7 linked regions of the Homo sapiens genome follow. The protein of the gene in region 1 purifies or fractionates together with the protein of each later gene. This does not show direct contact. Each region holds a gene or a part of one and is shown in the gene's direction. Other genes may lie near its edges.

What was found.
Region 2: the proteins of LPXN (region 1) and CCDC6 purify together in Homo sapiens (co-immunoprecipitation; 3 studies listed by BioGRID and IntAct, with this or other methods). This does not show direct contact.
Region 3: the proteins of LPXN (region 1) and LIMD1 purify together in Homo sapiens (affinity purification with mass spectrometry; 2 studies listed by BioGRID and IntAct, with this or other methods). This does not show direct contact.
Region 4: the proteins of LPXN (region 1) and RBMS1 purify together in Homo sapiens (co-immunoprecipitation; 3 studies listed by BioGRID and IntAct, with this or other methods). This does not show direct contact.
Region 5: the proteins of LPXN (region 1) and PCNT purify together in Homo sapiens (co-immunoprecipitation; 3 studies listed by BioGRID and IntAct, with this or other methods). This does not show direct contact.
Region 6: the proteins of LPXN (region 1) and GIT2 purify together in Homo sapiens (co-immunoprecipitation; 3 studies listed by BioGRID and IntAct, with this or other methods). This does not show direct contact.
Region 7: the proteins of LPXN (region 1) and MIB1 purify together in Homo sapiens (co-immunoprecipitation; 3 studies listed by BioGRID and IntAct, with this or other methods). This does not show direct contact.

What each region holds. Positions count from the first base shown.
Region 1 is NC_000011.10:58,548,357-58,551,856, reverse strand, and holds part of LPXN (leupaxin), read left to right. Parts: intron 1-624; coding exon 625-792; intron 793-976; coding exon of another isoform or gene 977-1,060; exon of another isoform or gene 1,061-1,704; intron 1,705-1,710; coding exon 1,711-1,884; intron 1,885-1,989; coding exon 1,990-2,071; intron 2,072-3,500. UniProt on the Homo sapiens protein: Transcriptional coactivator for androgen receptor (AR) and serum response factor (SRF). Contributes to the regulation of cell adhesion, spreading and cell migration and acts as a negative regulator in integrin-mediated cell adhesion events.
Region 2 is NC_000010.11:59,900,057-59,903,556, reverse strand, and holds part of CCDC6 (coiled-coil domain-containing protein 6), read left to right. Parts: intron 1-3,500.
Region 3 is NC_000003.12:45,678,251-45,681,750, forward strand, and holds part of LIMD1 (LIM domain-containing protein 1), read left to right. Parts: 3' UTR 1-3,500. UniProt on the Homo sapiens protein: Adapter or scaffold protein which participates in the assembly of numerous protein complexes and is involved in several cellular processes such as cell fate determination, cytoskeletal organization, repression of gene transcription, cell-cell adhesion, cell differentiation, proliferation and migration.
Region 4 is NC_000002.12:160,284,308-160,287,807, reverse strand, and holds part of RBMS1 (RNA-binding motif, single-stranded-interacting protein 1), read left to right. Parts: intron 1-723; coding exon 724-839; intron 840-2,763; coding exon 2,764-2,813; intron 2,814-2,939; coding exon 2,940-3,033; intron 3,034-3,500.
Region 5 is NC_000021.9:46,439,156-46,442,655, forward strand, and holds part of PCNT (pericentrin), read left to right. Parts: intron 1-927; coding exon 928-1,047; intron 1,048-1,699; coding exon 1,700-1,929; intron 1,930-3,341; coding exon 3,342-3,418; intron 3,419-3,500. UniProt on the Homo sapiens protein: Integral component of the filamentous matrix of the centrosome involved in the initial establishment of organized microtubule arrays in both mitosis and meiosis. Plays a role, together with DISC1, in the microtubule network formation.
Region 6 is NC_000012.12:109,979,369-109,982,868, reverse strand, and holds part of GIT2 (ARF GTPase-activating protein GIT2), read left to right. Parts: intron 1-342; exon of another isoform or gene 343-798; intron 799-1,689; exon of another isoform or gene 1,690-1,822; coding exon 1,823-1,917; exon of another isoform or gene 1,918-1,964; intron 1,965-3,500. UniProt on the Homo sapiens protein: GTPase-activating protein for ADP ribosylation factor family members, including ARF1.
Region 7 is NC_000018.10:21,866,292-21,869,791, forward strand, and holds part of MIB1 (E3 ubiquitin-protein ligase MIB1), read left to right. Parts: 3' UTR 1-3,500. UniProt on the Homo sapiens protein: E3 ubiquitin-protein ligase that mediates ubiquitination of Delta receptors, which act as ligands of Notch proteins.

The sequences.
Region 1 (3,500 bases):
AGTCCCAAGTATCTACTCAAATATTACTTCCTTAGAGGGGCCTTCTTTGATTATTACCTCCATCTAAATCAATTCTTCTTACCATCTTGCTGTGTCCCTTCTATCTCTTTCTATAACTTATCTCTGTCTGACATTACAACATATATTTATTTATTTAATTATTTATTGTCTATCGCCCACAGAATGCAATTCCATGAGGCCAGACACTTGGTCTGTCTTATCTTTGCTTTAATCCAAGTGCTTAGAGCAGTGATTGGCACAAACCAGGTATTCAACAATTATTGCCAAATAAATGAGTAAAAGGGAGATGTGACTAATTTTTGAACTGGGGTCATCCTAAGATCTTCAAAGGGTATCATCTTCATGTACTAAATTTCCTACATTAAGAAAAGATTTACAAATATAAAATTAGTCAGATTTCATTTGGCCTGAGGAGTTTAGGATGAAAGGGAGATGAAAAGATTTTTATTGGTGTTGAAATTTTAGATTTTTCCAATGTCTTGCAGGAAGGTTGGGGAAAGGCCAAGAGATCAGTCAGTAGAGGTGAATTTATAGAGTCATTAGAAGATGCCAATGAGAATAAAAATGAGGCTGATTCTGTTCTTGGTTCTTCCCTTGGGCCAGGTTGCAGTGAGAGCAGATGCTGGCAAGAAGCACTTACCAGACAAGCAGGATCACAAGGCCTCCCTGGACTCAATGCTTGGGGGTCTGGAGCAGGAATTGCAGGACCTTGGCATTGCCACAGTGCCCAAGGGCCATTGTGCATCCTGCCAGAAACCGATTGCTGGGAAGGTGAGATGGGCTGAAATTTTGGTCCTACAGCCTTCTTTGTCTCTCTCTGTCTCATCAAGGTTTGCTCTTTCCCCTTATATTTTAAGATATTTTAGTTAGCATTAATAATTACTAATCACTTACAGTGCTCTGGCCACTGAGCTAAGTGCTTTACAAGTATTTCCTCATTTAATGGTCACATCAGCCCTTCAAGAAGAATGATTGCTCCCTTTGTAAAGATGAGGAAACTGAGGACTCAGAGACATTAATGGACATATCCAAGGCATAATAAGAGGTAGAGGTAAGATCTGAAACCAGGAGACTGTCTCCTGAGTTTGAGTTCTTGACCATTTTTCTGTACTGCCTTTACTGAGATGACCTTTCTCACTGCTCCCTTTGTTCACACATTCCCAGTCTAAATTGATTGATTACAATTTTCAGCTGAACTCAGCTCCAAGTCACAGCTGCAAACTCCTGTTCTGCATCGTCCTTCACCGAAGCTATGATAAAAAGCTTTGAGACCTGACTGCATGGGGCGTGGAATAAAGTGTTCAAACTAGAGGAATAAAAACTGTCATTTGGCCTTTTCCTCTTCCAGGGGTCCCTTCCACACTAAGGCTACAGTTACAACTTCTCTGTCATCAATGTGCTATATGTTGTTTCTGCCACCCCCTGTGGCAGTGCAGTGGTTGTGAACATTTACAGGCTTTCATCACAGTGATCAGTCCCGGAAGTGGGCATCCTTTTATTATCAATCCATAAAGCACAGACCACAGATGGCCTTAGGTGGAACCTAGGTCTAGGCCTCAGTGTTGTATAATTCCAGGGCGTGTTGTCTACAAGGGGTACAATGTGAAGAGTGCTCCCTAGAGTTGTGCAACCTGTAGGCTGTAGAGCACTCAACTGGCCTCCTGTGTCAGGCTTTATTTCACTCCACAGGTGATCCATGCTCTAGGGCAATCATGGCATCCTGAGCATTTTGTCTGTACTCATTGCAAAGAAGAGATTGGCTCCAGTCCCTTCTTTGAGCGGAGTGGCTTGGCCTACTGCCCCAACGACTACCACCAACTTTTTTCTCCACGCTGTGCTTACTGCGCTGCTCCCATCCTGGATGTAAGTAAATCCCCGCTCCTCTCCAGCTTTCAGTCACTCACTTAGAACCAGAGTCATGCTTTACAACTTCTGCATCATTATAATATCTGTGTGTTCCCTTTCCAGAAAGTGCTGACAGCAATGAACCAGACCTGGCACCCAGAGCACTTCTTCTGCTCTCACTGCGGAGAGGTGTTTGGTGCAGAAGGTATGACCCGACTTGAGAGGCTGTATCCCACACCCCAGTGGGTAGTTATAAGACCAGCAACACCTTTCCTGGTAGTCACGGGAGTCCTGGTTCCTATCAGTACTATCAAAGTGCCCATTTCAGTACTAGATACCATCCCTCCCTACCTTTCTCCAACATTTATAATTTCCCTTTAAATTGATTTTTTAAATCACAGAAATACAAATGCATAGTTTAAAAACTCAAATATTACTTCAAGGGTAATATTGAAAAAGCCTTTTCTTGTTGAATATTGAAAAAGTCCCTTTCTCATCTCCAAATCCAGTTCTCCTCTCCAAATTATTTTAGCTGTTTCTTCTGATATTTACTTATTTTTTGTTGTTGTTGTTGTTTGTTTTTTTGAGACGGAGTCTCACTGTGTTGCCCAGGCTGGAGTGCAGTGGTGCGATCTCTGGTGCGATCTCCGCCCACTGCAACCTCCACCTCCTGGGTTCAAGCGATTCTCCTGCCTCAGCCTCCCAAGTAGCTGGGACTACAGGCACTTGCCACCACACCCGGTTAATTTTTGTATTTTTAGTAGGGACAATGTTTCACCATATTGGCCAGGCTGGTCTTGAACTCCTGACCTCGTGATCCGCCCGCCTTGGCCTCCCAAAGTGCTGGCATTACAGGCATGAACTACTGCGCCTGGCCTGCTTATGTGTTTTAAATAATAACTTTATATTGTTATAGATTGTTTTATTTTTCCAGTTTTAACCATTATGTATTGACTGTCTAAGAGGGAAGATGAGGTTTAGAAATGTTATTATTACCCCACTCACTCCTAACATATTTCCCCTCCCCTGTTTTTTCAATATATAATTATGTCATAATTACAGGTTAGATCAGTATTAAGTGTGCATATGTTGACAATCATAGAATACTGCTCACAAGTAAGCCATGTAGCAAACTGACTACACTAGAGTCTGGATTTTAGAGTCAGACTTCCAGGTTCAAATCTGGGTTGTGGTATTTGTTCAAGTCATTTAACATCTCTGTACCTTACTTTCCTCATCAGTAAAATAGTCCTAATGAAATTGCCTACCTTATAGGGTTGTTATGAGGATTTAGAGACAATACAAGCGTGGTATTTAGAATAGTGCCAAGCACATGGAGGTATAGTAGTGTTAATATTATTATCACAGTGTCCTTTTGGTATAAATTCATTTTTTTCTAAAGTTAACATTTGAATCCTTTTTGAAATTGGCTTAGTTTTTATTGTACTTATCACTAAGTTATGCAACAGAACTGTGAAATTCTTTTCAAAATGGCCAACTACATCTGGCAACAAGTCAGTTTCTTTCTTTTCTTTTTTTTTTTTCTGGAGATATCCCTCCAGGAGACTTTCCTCCTCCTGATTCAACATGAAATGATTTCTTCCTGCTGAGTAGCAGTCATTCTGGTTCATTAA
Region 2 (3,500 bases), on another chromosome or scaffold:
AGCAAGTTCAGGAAGACACATTGCCTTTTTGCCACACCCTGGGGAAGAGCCGGGCTCTTTTTTTCCCCCGACTTGTTTTGTTTTTTAATAGACTTTATTTTTTTAGAGCACTTTTATCTTCACGTAACACTGAACATAAAGTACAGAGATTTCCCACGTAACCCCTGCCTTCACACGGGCACAGCCTCCTCCACCATCAACATCTTTCATCATAGTGGTCCATTTGTTATAGTCAGTGAACCTACGTTGATACATCATTATCACCCAAAGTCTAGAGTTTACTTGGTCTTGTATATTCTATGAGTTTAGACAAATGTATAATGACATGTGTCCACCATTATAGTATTACGCAGAGTTTTTCTGCCCTGGAAGTCTTCCACGCTCTGTTCATCTTTCCCTCCCTGCAAACTCCTGGCAACCACTGATTTTTTTTACTCTCTCCTTAGTTTTGCCTTTTCCAGAATGTCATATAGTTGGAATCATACAGTATGCAGACTTTTCACTTAGTAAATGCATTTAAGTTTCTTCCATGTTCCCCAACTCCTATATCTTGTTTTCTGTTCAGAGTTAAATAGTATTTCATTGTTTGGATGTATCATAATTTATCTCTTCACCTCCTGTAGGGCATCTTGGTTGTTTCCACCTTTTGGCAATTATGAATAAAGCTGCTGGAAATATTCATATGAAGGGTTTTGTCTGGAAAGATATCAGTTCATTTGGGTAAATTCCAAAGAGCATGATTGCTGAATTATATGGTAAGAGTATGTTTAGTTTTATAAGAAATTGCCAAACTGTCTTCCAAAGTGGCTGCATCGTTTTTCATTCCCACCAACAGTGAATAAGAGTTGCTTTGGCGGGGCCGGGCGCGGTGGCTCATGCCTGTAATCCCAGCACTTTGGGGAGGCCAAGGCAGGCGGATCACCTCAGGTCAAGAGTTCGAGACCAGCCTGGCCAACATGGTGAAACCCCATCTCTACTGAAAAAAATACAGAAAAATTAGCTGGGGATGGTGTTGCATGCCTGTAATCCCAGCCTCTTTGGAGGCTGAGGCAGGAGAATGGCGTGAACCCAGGAGGTGGAGGTTGCAGTGAGCCAATGTCGCACCACTGCACTCCAGTCTGGGTGACAGAGCCAGACTTCATCTCAAAAAAAAAAAAAAAAAAAAAAAGAGTTACTGTTGCTCACCAACATTTGCTGTAGTCAGTGTTCTAGATTTTGACCATTCCAATAGGTGTATAGTAATATCTCTGTTATGCCCTTTTTAAAGCCAAGTCCAAAGGCTAATAGAAGCTCTTAACCAATGGTCTCTTCTGGTATGTAAGCGGCTATTCTGGTCAAACTACCCATTTAATGAACGACTAGTTTCATGGGCCTGTGTTCTCAGTATCTGTATAATAGTGGTAAACATCATCTGTGGGAGACAATCAACAGTAAGCAGTCTTTCAGTCGTGTCCACAAGCGCCCAGTGCACCTGTGAGTTATAGCCTGCCCTAGGCCATTTTATTTGGGGCTTAAAAGTGGAATAGAATATTTTGAGTGATTATTCAATTTTCCCCATGAAGTCAGCAGGGGAATCAGGCTACTGATTACAGATCATAATTTCTTTTTTTTGGAGTAGGGGAAATAAACAAATGCATAGTCACCTTTTTGAGTAGCTTTTGTATGTTAGGCCAGATCTGTTGGTTTGTCCTATGAGTGAGAATGTGATTGTGGATTATATGATTCAGTGTAGTGAGGGTTATTGTGGGGTGGTGGTCTTAGAGAAGGTGAGGAAATGCAATTGTGGGCAGTAATTGGATGGCTTCAAAGTTCTCAGCTAGTTGCTGGCATTCTCCGTGTATAAGCAGGGCCTCAGGTGGTTCTCTAGGGTGTGTACCTCTTCCAGGCAGTTTCAGACCTTTGGTATGTGTTTGGTTTGGAAATCAAGGCCTATAATAAATCACTGATATTTAAGTGTCTCTCTGACTGTAAAATTAATCCTTTATTGTAGAAGTTAAGGGAAATACAGAAGTACAAGGTGTTTTGAAGTTATAATAGAAAAATATGTTGGTCTGGCATGATTAGAAAACCTGGCTATTTTAAACATCAACAGTGTAATGGTTTCATTAACCAATAAAATCTGCCATATAGTTGATGTTGTATATTTTGGATTATTTACTCTGGAAGTCTAATATGTTATTTTCAATTTTTAAGACTTTTGTCAGACTCTGAAGCTACAAATCGATATTGCCTTTATAAATGTGACGATGAGAGTGTGATGTCTTTTTTCCCCCCGTTTAGAAAAGTATTTCTTAGATTCTTATGGAAACACACAACTTTAGACACAACTTTGAGGAAAATATGACCTCACAGTTAGGTCTAACTGTACACAAGTCTTCTTAAAGAGGCCATTCTCCTATTTCTTCAGCATTTACGAGTTTTTTCACATTTGTAAGTATCTTCTATGTGTTTCATATACTCTATTTGTACTTAATTTTTAAAAACCGTTTGTTTTTTTTGTGTGTGTGTGACAGCTTTATTACCCAGACTGGAGTGCAGTGGTGCGATCTCAGTTCACTGCAACCTCTGCCCCCCAGGTTCAAGTGATTCTCATGCCTCAGCCTCCCTACTAGCTGGGACTACAGGCATGCGCCACCATGCCCACCTAGTTTTGTATTTTTAGTGGAGGTGGTGTTTACCATGTTGTCCAGGCTGGTCTCAGAACTCCTGGCCTAAAGTGATCCACCCACCTCTGCCTCCCAAAGTGCTAGGATTACAGGTGTGAGCTACCATGCCCAGCCAAAAGCTGAAATTTTAAAGGTCATGACAGTCTTTTACAGTGCTTCCTATTTGCTAGAGATGGGGAATCATTAGAGAATTCACAGTATCTGGTTTGTGGTGACTCTTGTTCAGGACCAGAGAGGCTGGTCTACAGCAAAAATTGAAGGTAGCCATTGCTTGCTTAAACATATTGAATGACTCCCCATTGTCCTTGGATCCAGGTGAACCTTCTGGTGGTTTACCAGGCTCTGCATGATTGGAATGCCCTGCTTGCTTCACAGCCACACCTCTTACATGCGTTTAGCCCAGTGTGCATTCTCTAAGCTCTCACATCACTCCTTTACTACTAGCACCCAGAACTTCAGTAGATTTCCTCTGGCTCCTCAATGGTGCCGCTCGTCCCCTTAAATGTTCTTCTGTATTCCTCCCCTCTTTTCTACCTTGTCAGTTGAAATAGACTGTACTGCCTTCTCCACCTGAACCCCTTCCTGGTATGCCCTGATACTTCCTCTTTGTCAGCCACACACCGGGGTATGCACCTGCTACTGGGGTATGCACCTACTTCCGTGGTTCCATAGACACCACCCCCCCCACCCCACGTCACTGACACTCGACTATCGAGATCTTTCCCGGTTCATGTGTAAATTTCTTTGGGGGCAGAATTTGCCTTGTTCATCACATTCCTCAGTGCTTGGCATGTGAGAAACACCCAGAAATTTGTTGAGCTGGCTCCAGAGGCA
Region 3 (3,500 bases), on another chromosome or scaffold:
TCACAGATTCAGGAGGAATTTGGCTTTCACACTGGACTCAGATACCTTCTTCAGTGTGTTGGAAATCACTGGCTTCACACAGGCCCAACTCCAGCTGGTCAGGGCAGAGTGATCGTAACTAAAGGTCAGTGGGGAATAGATCCGATTCAGTGCTTTTGCCTTATGCATTTCAGCATCCTGGCTCCCCAGGGTGGCAGGAGCTGAGGGAGGGCCACACACTGGCAAGATTTCAAGACCACTCTCTGCACTGAAGAGGTAAAATTTGCACTGCAAGTCACATCCCTGAGGCCAGAGGTCAGTACCCTTTGGTATTTCGATTAGAAGAAGCTGCAAAAGAAAGGCAGCCCATTTTACCATTGCCAGCCAGGCCGGGGACACAGGAGCCGGTGTGTGCACTCTGCCTCCTCACCTTGCACCCAGAGCAAGAGGACTGGGTGCTGGGCTGCAGAGGCCGGTCAGTGGAGCCCCTAGCACGTGTGAACTCAGGCTTTTCATTGGGCCCGGCTCCACTTCTAGGCCATGTTTTGACTCATTTGGTAACCATTGCCTGTAAGCAGCACAGAATTGGTGCCATGGATTATCTTTTCCATGTTGATGGAATTCATTCTGTTGGAATCCTTTGGCCAGATGTCACTTCAGCCAGGGTGTGCATCATCATTGGTTCTTTTTCACAGGCTGAGCCTCCTGAAAACCCATGAACGCTGGGGCTGGGGAAGTGAACCCTGAGGTGGGGACCCTCTCTTCCCATCAAATCATCCAGCTCAGTGTGGGGCGTGGCAGGGGGGTAAATGAAGCCAGCCAATGTGTTAACCTGTCTCTGTCAACCTAAGAATGTTGGCCTTACTGACACACCTTTGCTCCATGTTCAAGACCAGAAGTAGCTGGGATTTGTTTGCAAATTGGGTAATTAGTTTAAAAATCTGTGATTACATTTTTAAATGAAATTTTCAAAGTGGCCTAGATTGAGGTGATTCAGATAGGTTTGCGAATATACCATTTTATATTGTTGAGAAAGAACAAAAAGGGAATTTCCAGATGTCCTAGAAATCCTAGCAACAGATTTCTCTGGTTGTCAGTTTCCCTGGAGAAGGCGCCAGATAGGAATCTCCAATCAGTTGTTTTTCTCTTCGCTTCAGGCCCTTACACAAAAGCCATGAAGAGATGTTCACCTACCCGGTATTTTAAATGTTCTGTAAATTATTAGCCAAATAGAACTGTAATGGGGTTGTATTTATGGGCGCCTAGAAAGAAAACACAAGGACTTGGTAGGCCAGGAAGAAAAGATTTTAAAATTTAGAATGAATAGCCCTTCTGGGTTTTCTTTTTGACAATTCTTGGACTTGAGGTAAAACAAGGAGGATTGTGGCCGGATTTCAGATCCCAAAGCCAGCCTCCATCTTAGGCCTTTGCCTCATTGTGCCTTTTAGGTTTTCTTACCCACCGTCTCCTGTTTTGTCTTTTTTTTCTTTTCTCCTACCCCTATCTTGGGACATTCAGAAACTGCCTGGGTGGTTTGAGAAGAGACAACCCAGTTTGATCTGCAATACAAGGATCCATTCGTAATCTCTCTCTCACTGATGTTATTCCCCCATCTGCCGTCTTGGTTCATCTCACCACAGAAGGGCATTTAGTCCTACCCAGCCATCGGCTGCGTATGACAGCAGGATGGCACTTCCCATTTCTCTGTGGTTAGTGCTCGAGTGAAAACCTCTTTCAGCTGAGTCCTCTGAGGTTCTGCTGTTGAGTCCTGGGTGGCTGATGGAATGATTGAGGAGGTCTGGTCACCCTCAAGCGCCGTCATCGCCTTGTTTCCATGGGCTTCTGTCACACAAAATGAAGAACAGAAATGTTAGGACTTAAGAGAATGTTTGGAATTCACACCTCTTTGCAGTCCTTTCAAGGCTGCTGCTCTGTGCTGTGTCCCATGCATGTGAAAGTAGAGCTGTGATGGCTGCTGGGACGCTTGCAAAGATCATGTGTGAGAATTGAGCACAAGACCACAAATTATTACTGCTTGATGCGCTTGTTAAAACTCTATCTGCCAGGAAACCAAATTTTCTTTTCTTTTCTTTTTTTTTTTGAGACAGGGCCTCACTCTGTTGCCCAGGCTGGAGTGCAGTGGCGCGATCTCAGCTCACTGCAGCCTCCACCTACTGGGCTCAAGTGATCCTCCCACCTCAGCCTCCCGAGTAGCCGGGACCACAGGCGTGTATGACTGGCTACGCCTGGCTAATTTTTGTATTTTTAATAGAGACGAGTTTCACCATGTTGCCCAGGATGGTCTGGAACTCCTGGGCTCAAGTGATCTGCCCACTTCCGCCTCCCAAAGTGTTGGGATTATGGCCATTAGCCACTGTACCTGGCACAATTTTTTTTTGTACCCTCCTTTATGCCAAGAATCAGTCCTAATTTCTTTACTATGTGAAGTAACTTTTAAAGGTAATAGAAAAGGCCAGGCACAGTGGCTCATGCCTGTAATCCCAGGCGCCGTGGCTCACGCCTGTAATCCCAGCACTTTGAGAGGCTGAGGCGGGTGGATCACTTAAGGTCAGGAGTTAGAGACCAGCCTGACCAACATGGTGAAACACTGTCTCTACTAAAAATACAAAATTAGCTGGGTTTGGTGGCGCACGCCTGTAATCCCAGCTACCTGAGAGGTTGAGGCAGGAGAATCGCTTGAACCTGGGAGGCAGAGGTTGCAGTGAGCCGAGATGGTGCCATTGCACTCCGACCTGGGCAACAGAGCGAAACACTGTCTCAAAAAAAAAAAAAAAAGTAACAGAAAAAAGAGTGAAATATATTAGCTATCTTTTATTCTGAGCCAAAACTTGACAGATGTGGGAAATCTTCATATAGTGTATGAAAATTTCATTGTACAGGGAAATTATTTTCCTCTGTGTCTTTTCTTTTACTATAAAGTGATTCAGAATTTTACTGTTACTATAAAATTATGCAAAGTATTGTGACAAAACTGCATCAATTTGTTGACTATTAAAGTGCTCCTTGAACATTATATTTCCTGGGTCTTTTCTGTGTGTGGAGTCAGCAAACTGTTTTTTGCTACCTGGACTTTGTCTTCTTTTACAGCTCTGGATTCTTAAAAGTACCACATAGGTAGCAAACCTGTGAAGGGTATGAGATTTTACCCTACTTGCAGGCTAATAAAGTGAGCACACCACATGGGTTCATGGATCCTGGCAGAAGTTATGAGACTCATAGGTCAGAGACAAAGGACAGTTTATTATAGCAATAGCAGTGGCCAGATTATCAGCATTTACACTGGTTCCCTGAGCCCCAGGCCCCAAGAAGAGGGCCAGGTGAGACCTGCACACGCAGTGGGCTGCATTACAAGAGGAACCCCCATGCTTAGGGGACCCTGGTATTTGATAATGGGCAGTAAGCCTGCCTGACTTTTGCTCCAGAGACAGACACTATCTCTGTCATCCAAGACTGTTCACTAGATAAACATCCTTGAAAATATAAGTCTGGAACCTGGCAAT
Region 4 (3,500 bases), on another chromosome or scaffold:
ATTTTTAGCTTTCTCACAACAGCCATCTTCACTGACGTATCCCAAAAATAAACATATGAGACCTATTTCTATTCATTCACTGATGCAACCAAGATGTAATAAGCAACTACAAAGTCCAGACACTTAGGCACTGGGGATACAGTGATAGACAAAACAGACAATGTTACTGCCCCCATGGGGCGTATAGCCTAGAAGGGGAAACAGACACCAAGCAAGTAAACATACTCACCAATTGTTACAAATTGTGAATAAAAATATATGTGCGAGCAGTGTAGAGGTGGCTTGTTTTCTACTGGGAGAAGTGAAGGGTCCCTCTTAGGAATTATAATGGGACGCTAAGGGACCATTTTAAGTTGGGGGAGGGGAGGATGGCACAATCCTATTGAATTTGAAGATTATTTTGGTGACGGTCCAGAGGTGGAATTGGAGAGGGCCCAAAACCAAAAGAAATGTGTCTACTCTTAAGTGTGAAAGTGAATCGAAAGATTCCTTTGCTTCCTCAGAATAGTTATTTAAATGTTCAGAAATAATAACTAGTATGTTTTTCTGCACTATGTTTTTCATCGTGGACAGTTTTACAAAGGTCTGAGTAAACTGCTTTTGCCTTAAAGTGTTGTATGAATTTTCTAATAGCGTGAACACTATTCCTATTTTTGTAATACATTTTGTCATCCACATACACGTATCATTGTGGTTTCATTTTATTTTTCTCTGTTTACTTAGCCCCCACAGAACCTTTATTGTGTAAGTTTGCTGATGGAGGACAGAAAAAGAGACAGAACCCAAACAAATACATCCCTAATGGAAGACCATGGCATAGAGAAGGAGAGGTGAGACTTGTAAGTCCTTTCTTGAAACTTTGCGGGGTGGGGGAGGGGGTGTGATCTTGAATGCCCACATGAAAAGTAACACAAAAAGGCATCTTGACTTGGCTGCACACTTCTGAAATAGGTGCCAGGATTAAATCTTCCTTTCGGTACATTATAATTCAAGTGATGCCAAATTAAAATTCTTTTCATTATATATGGTGATAACAGAGTGATTCTCCAGATGGACCGATAGGTGGTGGAAGCAGCTGTGTTTACCAGCTAGCTACACATGAAGTAAAAGAGCATTCTAAATTGCCATAAGAAAAACACAAGTGATTTGGGTTTGTTTTTGGTTTTTTTCAGAAACAGGGTTTCTGTAGGCTAGGCGCGGTGGCTCACACCTATAATCCTAGCACTTTGGGAGGCCAAGGCAGGCAGATCACCTGAGATCAGGAGTTAGAGATCAGCCTGGCCAACATGGCGAAACCCCGTCTCTACTAAAAATACAAAAATTAGCCCTGCGTGGTGGTCCATGCCTGTAATCCCAGCTACCTGGGAGGCTGAGGCAGGAGAATCGCTGCAGCCCGGGAGGCAGAGGCTGCAGTGTTCCAAGATCATGCCACTGCACTCCAGCCTGGGCAACAGAGCGAGACTCCATCTCAAAAAAAAAAAACAAAATAAAAAAAAAAAAAAAAGAAAGGAAGAAACATGGTCTCTGTTGCCCAGGCTGGAGTCCAGTGGTGTGGTTATAGCCTACCACAACCTTGAACTCCTGTGCTCAAGCAGTCCTCCCACCTCAGCCTCCTATGTAGCTGAGACGACAGGGACATGCCACCACTCCTGGCTAATTTTTAAAAATTTTTATTTTTTTATTTATTTTTTATTTTTGAGATGGAGTCTTGCTCTGTCGCTCAGGCTGGAGGGCAGTGGCACGATCTCCGCTCACTGCAAGCTCTGCCTCCTGGGTTCATGCCATTCTCCTGCCTCAGCCTCCCAAGTAGCTGGGACTACAGGCACCCACCACCATGCGCGGCTAATTTTTTGTATTTTTACTAGAGATGGGGTTTCACCGTGTTAGTCGGGATGGTCTCAATCTCCTGGCCTCATGATCCACCCACCTCAGCCTCCCAAAGTGCTGGGATTACAGGCGTGAACCATCGTGCTCGGCCTAATTTTTTAAAATTTTTATAGAGATAGGATCTAACTATGTTGCCCAGGCTAGCATGGTTTCTTAGAGGGGTTTATATTTATAATATTTAGAAGTTATCCTAAATAGTAATCTAAATATTTATATATAAATAGTACATTTATCACTGAGTTGGGGTTTTTTTCACCTCTCTTTTGAATAGTTTTTTTTTTAATTAAAACTCTCAATTTCGTAATAAAATGTTGGACGTCCATTTCCCTGTATTGACTTTCCATGAATTATTATTTTAAAAACAATAACATATTGATCCAAGAATGTCTAGGGAAAATGTTCTAGAATCTGCACTGTCCAATAACAGCCACCAGCCACAGGTGGCTCTCTGAGCACTTGAAACGTAGCTAGTATGCTAGAGAGATTGATTTTTTATGTAGTTTTAAATAGCTGCATGTGGCTTATGACTATCACATGGGACAGTGCAGGTCCAGAGATTAATTTTCATATTTATAGTCATTTTGACTAACAGAAACTCCCAATTTTATCAAATGCTACTAGACTCTAAGTACAAATTCCCCTCCCTCCCCTTTTTTTTTAAGAGACAGGGGTCTCCTTCTGTTGCCCAGGCTGGAGTGCAGTGATGTAATCATAGCTAACTACAGCCTCGAACTCCTGGGCTTCAAAAGGATCTTCCCACCTCAGCCTCCCCAGCAGCTGGGACTACAGGTGCACACCACCACACCTGGCTAAAAATAGAATTTTTAAATCATGCCTTTCTAGATGAATGTTTATATTTCTTTCTCTTTCCCATAGGCTGGAATGACACTTACTTACGACCCAACTACAGCTGCTATACAGAACGGGTATGTCGTTAAAATAAATCCATAATGGCTTGAGGGAAAATGTGAAGGTGGAAAATATCAGACATTTGTTCCATGAATTATTCTATTTAAAGGATTACTTAATAAAGGCTTTTGTGTTTGTTCTAGATTTTATCCTTCACCATACAGTATTGCTACAAACCGAATGATCACTCAAACTTCTATTACACCCTATATTGCATCTCCTGTATCTGCCTACCAGGTTTGTACCTTTAGGATTCGTCAGCAGTATAACCACTTGCGGACCATGAATCTCTGCTACATTTTTATGTGTCTTAAAATTTTGAGCGTTTATGAAATTTGAGTCAAATATTATGCAGCTTGGATACCCAATTTAGTATGAGCTGCTTTGTATTTGGCAGAGCAATTTATGTATAGGAGAATGTAAAGCAAAGGAAAATGTTTGTCAGTGGTCAGTCCTTGGAATCATAGCATTTTGGATTGGAATGAACCCAAACACTTCCTTCACCAAGGGGCCCTGCTTTTGGACACCATGTGTCCCAAAAATTGAAACTTAAGATAATTGCCGTTAGATATAATACAGAATAGGTGTGTACCCTTGCTTTTGTTTATTCTTCAGCAGGAACTGATAAAAGAACAAGTATAAACATGGTAATACATAAAGATGTGTCTCTAGTAGGTAGCATTAAGTGAGCAATGCAGCTGACA
Region 5 (3,500 bases), on another chromosome or scaffold:
GTTCACACACACACACATCCCTGTAACCTTCATAAGTAACCACCATTCACAGAGCACACAGCGATGGCCCCCCCAAAAAGAGCAGCAGGCATCTCCGCCTGCCACAGGCCCTGGCTCTCTCCCAGAAAGGTGTGTCAGTGGAACCAGCCCGTCTGGGACCTCCTAAACTGGCTTTTTTCACTTTTTGGGTTTTTTTTCTGAGACAGGGCCTTGCTGCATCTCCCAGGCTGGAGTGCAGTGGAGCAGTCACAGCTCACTTCAGCCTTGACCTCCCAGGTTCAGGGATCCTCCTGCCTCAGCCTCCTGACCTGCAGTGGTGTCAGCAGCAACCTGTGCACGTCCTCCCGTACACTCTTAAGTCATCTCTAAGATCACTTGCAGCACCTCATTCAGTGTAAATGCCACGTAAATAGTTGTCATCCTGTATTGTTTAGGGTGTAGGGGCAAGAAAAGAAGCACACGTTTGGTACAGACACATCGTTTTTTCTGAATATTTTTCACCCACAGTTGGTTGAATCCATGGATGTGGAACCCACAGCTGTCGAGAGTTGACTGTGCTTGTAGTTACCAGTGGTTGGCATTTCTAGGACCGGAGAATATGAGAGTGTTTAAGGCTTAAAGCTTTGAATTTGGGGTGATTTTACAAAGAATTGGTTTTCTGTTTCTGTTAAAATGTACCTTTTTTGCAATCATACTTCAGCAAGTGGCATGTCGTAATTACTCCATGTTAATTCTTTGGCTGATCACAGCACGGCGTAACCTAGGCCCTGCTGAGGGGGTGCTGAAGTTGAGGAGGGGCCAGGTGTGGTGTGGTCAGCCTGGCCTCCCCGCACATGGCCTTCTCCCTCACCTGCCCCCGGCTGCGTCTCTAAGATGCTCTTGTTGACGAGCAGCTCTGTAGACAGCGCTGGCTGTGCTTCCTTACAGAGGTCGGAAAGGTCTGCTTGGAAGCCAGACGAAACGGCTCCACAGAGTTCCCTGAGGCGCCCAGACCCCGGCCGGCTTCCACCAGCTGCCAGCGAGGAAGCACACACCAGCAATGTCAAGGTAGGAACGGTGCCACGAGTATAGAACTTTGGTGCTTTTTTAAGTCCTGGGTTTGCAAATTGCAGGCAAAGCATTTTTGTGACCACAAGGTTCTCGTCTGCCGGGTGTAGCAGTCACATCACTAAAGGAAAGGACGTTCACAGAATAAACTTCGGCTTGAATTTTGTTTTAATTGTGCACAAATACTGAGTTTCTGTGCTTGTTAAGCGTGGAACGTGGAAGGCTTTGACAAAGTCAGCAAATGGCGGCCTCTGCAGCCTGAGGGAGGCCTGGCCCAGGGGCTTGCCGGGATTCGGCCCAAGATCTGCTGCAGTCTCCTGATGGCACACGGTCCCCACCCCGTGACGTCCATCTCATGCCCAGTTTGGACCTTACCTAAGGGGTGAAATGCAAGAAGCTTCATAGGGGCTCATTTGATGATGCTGTGGAGAGGAGCTTGTGGTCCTAGATCTTGTCTGACAAACACAAATTGATCTTCCAACAGCAAGGTTGTTTCTGGCCACAGATACTGTTGGAAGGCCGATGGCTCTGTGATGATTTGATGGGAAAAAACAATCTGACTCTTTGGAAAGAGCAATGGTGTTAATGTGCTTTTGTCAGCAAGACAGTCTTTGTTTCCTATGATAAAATTTTACTGCTTTTTTTCTTTTAGATGGAAAAATTGTACCTGCATTACTTGAGAGCAGAGAGCTTTAGAAAAGCTCTGATTTATCAAAAGAAGTATCTTTTGCTGTTGATTGGTGGATTCCAGGATTCTGAACAAGAAACACTCTCCATGATTGCCCATTTGGGGGTATTTCCTTCCAAAGCAGAACGGAAAATCACATCTCGTCCTTTCACCAGGTTCCGCACGGCCGTCAGGGTGGTCATTGCAATATTAAGGTAAATGCCATGACGTTCAGTCAGTGCGTTCCGCGTCTGTCTCCGTGAGTGGGCAGCACACTGCATGGTTTTTTGGTCATTTTATTCCTTGAAACTCCATAATATGTTCTTTTTAAAGATGAATGGCATTTGAGGCCTTAGAGAAAATACAGATGATGAACTTGTCTTCAAGAAGTCATGTGTATGAATCTCTCACCTTCTAAAACTAAAGATTTAAGGGCACCTTTGTATTACAGAGGAACATCTTGACTTTTAATGGGTTTCGTGCCACAAAGAACGTGCTGAATTTCTAAAACTGTTTTTCCCCCTAAACACTGTGCGGCTGTGCCTGCTCCCTGATGCCACAGAGGTGTTTCCCAAGGCCACGCGCGGGCCTGTCTGGAGTAGCAGATGCAGCAGAGAGCAGCTAGGAATCCCGCTCCTTTCAGAGACCAGGTGCCGAGCCAGTTCAGTCATCGCGGCTGCAGGCTGGGCCAAAGTGGGGTGCAGGCGAGGCCTCCTGGGTTGCTGTACTCTCAGCTTCTCTGGTCCTGGGGCACTTTGTCTCCTCGTCTCTGAGCTCCCCTGACCGTAGGCCTCCACCGTCCATCCTTCCACCCACCCATCTGTCCATCCTGTGTTCATGGGGAGAACACCCTGCAGGAGGAAGCATTTTAGGCACTAGATAGGGGAGGTAAGCAGACCCAGATCCTACCTCCTGTCGAGGAGGGGAGATCTTTTGAAGGCAGTGGTGTCCCAGAAAGGAGCAGTCTCTGTGTCCCTGTGAGGGCACTGCCTAGGGTAGCTGCCACCAAGGGGCCTTGACAGGTCTTATGGAGGAATCGGCAGTGTCTGCTATGCCTCAAAGGAGGGAAGCCACAGGCATGATGCTTGTTCCGAAGGCCATCCTAGCAGGGCGTCTGGGGCCCTGCACACTGACCTGCATGCCCTCGTCACCTGCACTCTGCATGCTCACCATCTGACGGACTCCTGCGAGGGCTGGGGTCTCCGTGTTCTGAGCCTGTCCAGTGGCATCTGTGACAGGATGAAGATGGGAGGGTCCTGCACACCAGGCGGGAGCGGCATGTGTTTCCTAGTCACTGGTGTGGCCGGCTGACTTTGAACTGGAGTCGTCCTGAGCTGGGCCATGGTGGGTGTCTAGGGGACCATATGGTCCACGGTGGGGCCGCAGTGAGGCTTTGTCAGGTGGTTGGGCATGGGAAGGTCGCCGCCGCCGGCAGCCCTGCGAGCACTTTGGATGTGTGCACCCGGCATGCCAGGCCCGAGTCAACAGACTGGCCGACCTTGGCGTCCTGGTCCCCATGGGCAGCGAGGCCCCCATTCTGCTTGTTTGGTCACAGTGGGGTTTTCATTGCTCTTTCCCTTCCTGTCTTGCCGTACTTTTAAGTGTGTCTTGTCTCTTTTTTTTGTAGATTACGTTTTTTGGTTAAGAAATGGCAAGAAGTAGATCGGAAAGGAGCTCTGGCACAAGGCAAAGCCCCTCGCCCAGGTGGGACTCCAGCTGCTGTTGACCGCTGGACTCACAAACCTTTCTTTCTACTCTTGTTTTTCATTCACTTTGGGTCATTTTT
Region 6 (3,500 bases), on another chromosome or scaffold:
TTCGAGATCAGCCTGGCCAGCATGCTGAAACCCTGTCTCTACTAAAAATACAAAAAAAAAAATTGGCTGGGCATGGTGGCAGGCACCTGTAATCCCGCTACCCGGGAGGCTGAGGCAGGAGAATCACTTAAACCTGGGAGGCAGAGGTTGCTGTGAGCCGAGACCATGCCACTGCACTCCAATCTGGGTAACAGGGCAAGACTCTGTCTCAAAAAAAAAAAAAAAAAAAAGTGCTCACTGTAAAATTATTTAAATTTTTCTTTATTAATAAAGTCCTTGAAAAATAAATCTATAGGTTAGTCTTGAATATCATTTAAATGGCCAAAGATCAGTCATCTTTCCTTCTTTTTCCAAAGTACTTTTATTAACTGTGAAGCACAATACTCTGTTCCACAGAGGATAAAATGGGTGAATAACAAAACTCTGCCTTCCCAGAATTTACTCTCTTGGAAAAGATGATTCATAAATGCCTGAAAGAGTTCAAGGAGGCAAGACCATATGGGATTCATTGCCAAAATAGATAATTGGTCTTAAAAAGCATATATAGGGTTTCTTCATTGTGGTCCAAATCATTTAAGAAATTTCTTCAGCTGGTCTTGAAGAATGGGTTGGATTTGAATGTGTGAAGGGAGAGCTGAAGCATTCCAGGTAAGAGGAAAGGCAGGAGTCAAGATCAGGAGGCAGGGAGGGACAAAGTGTGTTCAGCACAGCAGGAGACCTGACTGGAAAGAACAGAGTGGGTCTGGGAATAACAGCAGGAGTACAGTATTGCATGGTGCTTCATTATTTCACAGAGCACTAAAAAAGAAAAGAGTTCAGCCAATTAAATTATGGTGTATCATCAATTGTAGGACATTTCCTGATTTCACAGATACTAAAAAATGAAAATAAGATGTGCCTCTCACAAATCAAAGCTGTGTGGTAGGTTGAAGGGTGTTGTGAGTGCCTTGAATGGTGGGGAGAGAAGCTGGCTGAAACTATCAGGTTGGTGCAAAAGTAATTGCAGTTTTTGCCATTACTTTTAAGGACAAAAACCACAAAATATACTTGATCTTGGACGAGAGCCCTGGGTAAATGATACTTATTATCACTTACCTTGGAATTTTCGCACTTGTACCTTGCATATAATAATCTCAATATAATTTGTATCCTTGTTGCTGAAAGGATTCTAAGCAGCCTAAGTATTTATTTCATGGATGTTGAAAGGTAAACTTAATATTTTCTGTTGTGCAAATTGAAGATAAGGAGGCAGAAGTAGCTGCAGGCGTGAGCTGTGCGTTAGGTTGGCGTGTCTCTCACTGATTTGAAGCCTTTGAAGTGGTTACTAGACTCTTATCCAGAGTCAGACTGGCTGCATCAGCATCACCTAGGGGAAGGACCTTCTTCAACATATTGGCCCCTGGCCCCATCCTGTCCCCATTGATTCAGAATTTCCAAGGGTGGGGCCTGCACATGGTATATTTCTAGAAATGCGCTAGTTAATTTTTGAGAACTTCTACCGTAAACCATTGATTAATTTCATTTTTTTACCTCATTAAATTAAGTCATTCTGTATCCTTCCCTCTCATAAGTCTTTGAATTTCTTATTAAATATTCTATTTTGGCCTTAATAAAGGAAAGGCGATAGTTCAGATGGTGAAAACAGTTTATAAAAGTGGGATGCAAAGTAGACTTCAGAAATCTACCTACCACAAGAAGGTTGATGATTCTCAAAAGTCTTGTGTGATAAACTGCTCAGGTGTCTCAGGAGACGTCTTTGTACTCCATTTTAAAGTCAGTGAATAGTGAGCAATATAAATGGTACTTTGTTTTCTCTTGGTAGGCAAGGAGGGCACCATGAGCTGGCAGAGCGCCTCGTGGAAATACAGTATGAGCTAACGGACAGACTAGCCTTCTATCTCTGTGGCAGGAAACCAGGTGAGTGGATGGAGAATGACCGTTTCACATCTCCAGTTGGGAAGGTTCTAGAAAAACAAGTTGGGACACTATTTGTTATTACCTCCTCTGCTGTAACATATCACTGAGAAAGCTATACATATGGCTTTTAATTTGAAAGGATAACTACAGAATTGTCAGTTACATGTAAAAGATATAAAGTTGGACAAAACTCCTTAGATTTTTCATTTTTAATAGCTCTAGAGAAATGACTATTTCAAGAATCAGACTGAATAATCAAAGCAAAATTGAATGGGTACCACAGTTCTTGAACATGGTGGGACTAGGAATGTAGGAGCAAAGCAATAACCTTTGTAGTTATTTGAAAAATTCTTCTTAAGGAATGGAAAAAAAGTCCAGAAGTAAACTTTGCCAAAGCCAACTTGGCTATTTGTGATAGGGAACAGGGGTCAGCAAACCATGGTTTGTAGCCCAAATCTAGCCAGTTACTTGTTTTATTAAACAAAGTTTTGTATCGTGCCACTGCACTTCAGCCTAGGTGACAGAGTCAGACTCTGTCTCAAAATAAATAAATAAAAATAAATAAATAAATAAATAAAGCTTCTGCCGGGTGCAACGGGTCATGTCTGTAATCCTAGCACTTTGGGAGGCCGAGGCAGAAAGACTGCTTGCACCTAGGAATTCGAAAGTAGCCTGGGCAAGAGGGGTGAGACTCCGTCTCCACAAAAAAGTTTTTTAAAAAATCAGCCAGGCATGGTGGTGTGCGCCTGTAGTCCCACGTACTTGGGAGACTGGGACTTGAGCCCAGGAATTCAGGGTGGCAGTGAGCTATGATTGTGCCACTGCACTCCAGCCTGGGTGCAGTGACAAAGCAAGACCCCCAACTCTCTAAAAAATAAATGAATAAAGTTTTATTGCAAGAAAGCCGCGCCCAATTATTTATACCTTGTGTATGGCTGCTTTCACATAACAACAGCAGAGTTGAATAGGTTAAGTCGTTGCAACAGGCCAGATGGCCACAAAGCCTAAAATATTTACTATTTGGCCCTTTAAAGAAAATATTGGCCAACCCCTGATGTACAACATTCACATACATGTATGCAGTGATTCTCCATCCTGGTTGTATGATAGAGTTAAGAGCCTCTGGTATAGTTTCAGTTCTGGGTGAGATGGAGTAAGCACACCCCACCGTGTCTCCTGCAAAATAGAACTAACAGACCTGGACCAAATGCTTGGAGTAGCTAGCTAAAGACTCTGAAAAGTAAATCCTGGTTGGTAGATTAGGGAACTCAAAAGTGTCATCAGCTGGTGGTGAGTGTCCTGTTTGTCTTACTTCTGATAGGACTTCAATGACAGCCTGAAACCTGGAGGTACATAATGAGTGCAAAAAAGCCTTTTTCTGCGGGGTGCGGTGGCTCACGCCTGTAATCCCAGCACTTTGGGAGGCTGAGGTGGGCGGATCATGAGGTCAGGAGATCCAGATCATCCTGGCCAACATGGTGAAACCCTGTCTCTACTAAAAATACAAAAAAATTAGCTGGGCATGGTGGCAGGCGCCTATAGTCCCAGCTACTCGGGAGGCTGAGGCAGAATTGCTTGAACCC
Region 7 (3,500 bases), on another chromosome or scaffold:
CCATGTCTGTGTTTAGCTGAGTAACTGCTATCATTTAGAACAGTAAAATTTTTATAGATTTCAAATTTGAAAATTCATGTACACTCAGTTATCTAATAAGGGGCCACCGACGCTGTTTTTAAAACTATTTTGAAGTTATAAAAAGGTAGAACATCTGACTGATGATGTTCACATAAAGAGACAGACAGACTATCATGTTGCAGACATGAAAACAGCATGTCAGGTTTTTCCTTTCCTTCCATGCCATGGGCTACCCATCTCTTCCCACTAGATCACCTGGTGAGGAGGGAGCACCTGGCTGACTCATGCAGAGTTTGGCCAATCAGAGAATTGTGTGGTCTCCAGCTCTACTTTCCTTAAACAAATCCTTTCTGTTTTCTGAGCTGCAGTGCTAAAACAGATCCCTAAAAGGTAATAGCATCTTCCAGACTAGTTTAATTATTTCCTTTATAAGAATATGACATAAATTTTTATTATAGAAATAATGTCATTATAATTTTAGTGCTAGTACTTGTGGGTTTTCTGTATTTGTATCACCTTGAAATTTGTTCCATGAATAGAAAATACTTCTTTATTCATGTTTTCAATCACTTAGAATTATTTTAAATTTATTTTGGGTTTGTGAGAGATAATAAGATTAAGAACTTCATCATTTCAGTGACTTTCCTCCAACTCTCTGAATCTGCTACCTCTTATTATATGTCCCTTAGCAGTACTTTTCCAGTTAGGTTCGTTACCCTGCTCATTAGCTAAACCTCTTTATCTTGTGCCTCAAAAGAGCTTTTACTTTTCTTAGAAACATTTATAAAAAAGAAAAAAACTGACACGCATTCATTCAAAAAAGTATTTATTGGGCTTTAGGGATTAGATACACAACAGTGGAAAAATGGCATCTTAGCACACTCAGAATTTATTGTGCAGCAGTTGTGTATTTTAAGGAATCTGTAGTTAAAAGGAAGAGATCCAAAGGTCCTGATAACATTTCCTAACGTTTCAGAAGAGTTGTCATTGAGTAGTGTTTGGATTTCCTCTCTGTATCCCTCACCCTACCATTTTCTCCTTTATTCTTCTAAGATTGTTAGCGTTGTTACTCAAAACATACACATACAACATACCAGATGGTGCTGTTCTAATGGTATTTGTTCACGTAATTTAACGTTCTTACTGCTTATACTATATACATATTTAATTTTGTTGGGAGCAAGAAGGTTTTCAAGAAAAGATAATTTTGTATTAGTGTAGGAATATATTAGACAAATGTTTAGTTGGTCAAATTATGCATAAGATATTTGTAACTTTAAACATTGCAAATTGACCAGCTAGCTATGGAAGCATAAAATTAATTGATAATTAATGTTGGAAATACATTTCTAAAATTTATATTTTTATGGTGTTAGCCTGTAAGAGCATTTTAGCATATTGAAATGCATGCTGCTTAAGATGTGTCTGGTTCAAATATCAAAACTTGCTGGGTCATTTTTACATAGTAGAAACATACTGTCTATGTGTTGCCCAATTGCTGTTTGTCCACTCTGAATTCTGGACCCTTTTTGGACTAAGAATTAGTTAAATTCATGAACTAAGAGAATTAGAGATGGGGTAGAGTAGGATCAGGACAGTGGGGTTACAACAGATAGGAAAGGAAAGTCAGCATTTGAGTGTAGAGAAAAAAAGAGGATCATACAGATGTCATCAAATTATAGGCTTTAATACAGGTTGCTTTTTTTAATCCAAAAGGAAAAGCACTTATCCTATCAGAATGTCTACCATGTTTTATAGTAATAATTTGTGTAAAAAATTGAATTTTTGAATAGTTTTTTGTATTTTTTGTGATGAAAAACTCATAACATAAAATTTACCATATTAACTGTTTCTAAAGAATACAGTTCAGCCATGTGAAGTACATTTACACTGTTGTGAAGCAGATCTCCAGAACTTTTTCATCTTGCAAAACTGAAACTCCATACCCATTAAACAACTCCCCTTTTTGTTTTCTCCTCAGTGGAATAGAATTTTGACTCCATATAAATCAAGAAACACCTAAATTCTTTAGTTGTTTGTGTTTGCAAGATCTAAGGTCATGGTAAACATTAAGTTCTTAAAATTTTTGGGAGGGACAGTGCACCTCTCCTCTGAATTGTTAGCAATTAAATTGAGTAGGTTTTAAATGTCTATTCATTGGAAGGGTTTGTTATTTCATTTTGAGCCAGAGGGGAGAGGCACATTTTAAATATCAGAATTAGATTAGCTTTGAGTTTGTACAATTGGGAACATAATAGATTTTCATAAATTATGTGTGCCTTGTTGGAAGTGTCAACTGTCTTTATGTCTGCTTGTAAAAGTTTCAAAATATGTTTTCCCTCAAAAAGGCAACGTTACTTCATTTGCTTGAATATTATGATAGGAATGCTTACTGATATTACTTGATAGTCATATATAGCCTAGGAAATTTAACATATATATAACTATAGCAGTATTAATAATGATAGTTGTACTTCTTTAAAACATTAAATTTGAGGAAACTTTAATGCTGTCTCGTGTACATTGCTTTACTACAGTGAGGGGGAATATCCTTTAGATTGAGCCTCAATTTACTGGTTAGTAGTATGTGAAACTCTGGTATAAAAACGTAAACTAGACAGTAGAGCCGATGAATTAAAATTGTAAATTGCTACATTGGCATTTTCTACCTCCTTTTCTGTCAGAGTATTACTTTTTCCAGCATTTATTCTTATTTGTGAGTAAAGAGGAAATGGGAACCTGAGGTTAAAATTGACATTTTTGTTTCATTGAGAATTTAAGCAGTAGGTACAGGAGAAGTGACTTGTCACATTAATTTGGTGCCTAAATCTGTAACTACAAGTTGTGATCGACATGTACAAAATGTCTAAGAAAGGTCATATGCTGAATATTTTACTTTTCCTGTATAGTCTGCATGATTTGTTTCATAAACCCAGCTTATTTCCTCCAAAAAGCAAAATGGTCCTGTAATTTTTAAAGTAAAATAAACGTGCCATTTTGTCTGCAATCTATAATTTCAGGAAGTTATTGAAAGTTCTGACTCAGGGCTTTTTAACAGTTCAAGCAATTGTCAGTTATATTTTGGAAACTCCATCTGTGTAATTCTCCAGTGCCTTGAAAGAATTATTAACTTGGCAACACTATTAAAACTTTATAAAAGATGGTCTTTAGTGCACGTGTATCATTATATACACGTTTTAAAGTCATATTGCTTAGCTTGTTAATAATGATTCTGCATGTGTGCTGGGTTTGGGTAATTCTTTAAAGGAAGTTTTCTAGATTTGCACTTGATGTTTGTTTTTTAAAAACTGATTATTTATGGCCGTGACACTGTTACCAGAAAAGTAATTCTAATTAAGTTATTATGCAAAGTCATCTATAAGTAGCATCTGGGAAGAGGAGATCGAGGCCACAGTTTGCTATTTTAGTATGAAAGGAGGATCTGTTTGGGAAACATAGATTGTCTTCCCCTCAAATGA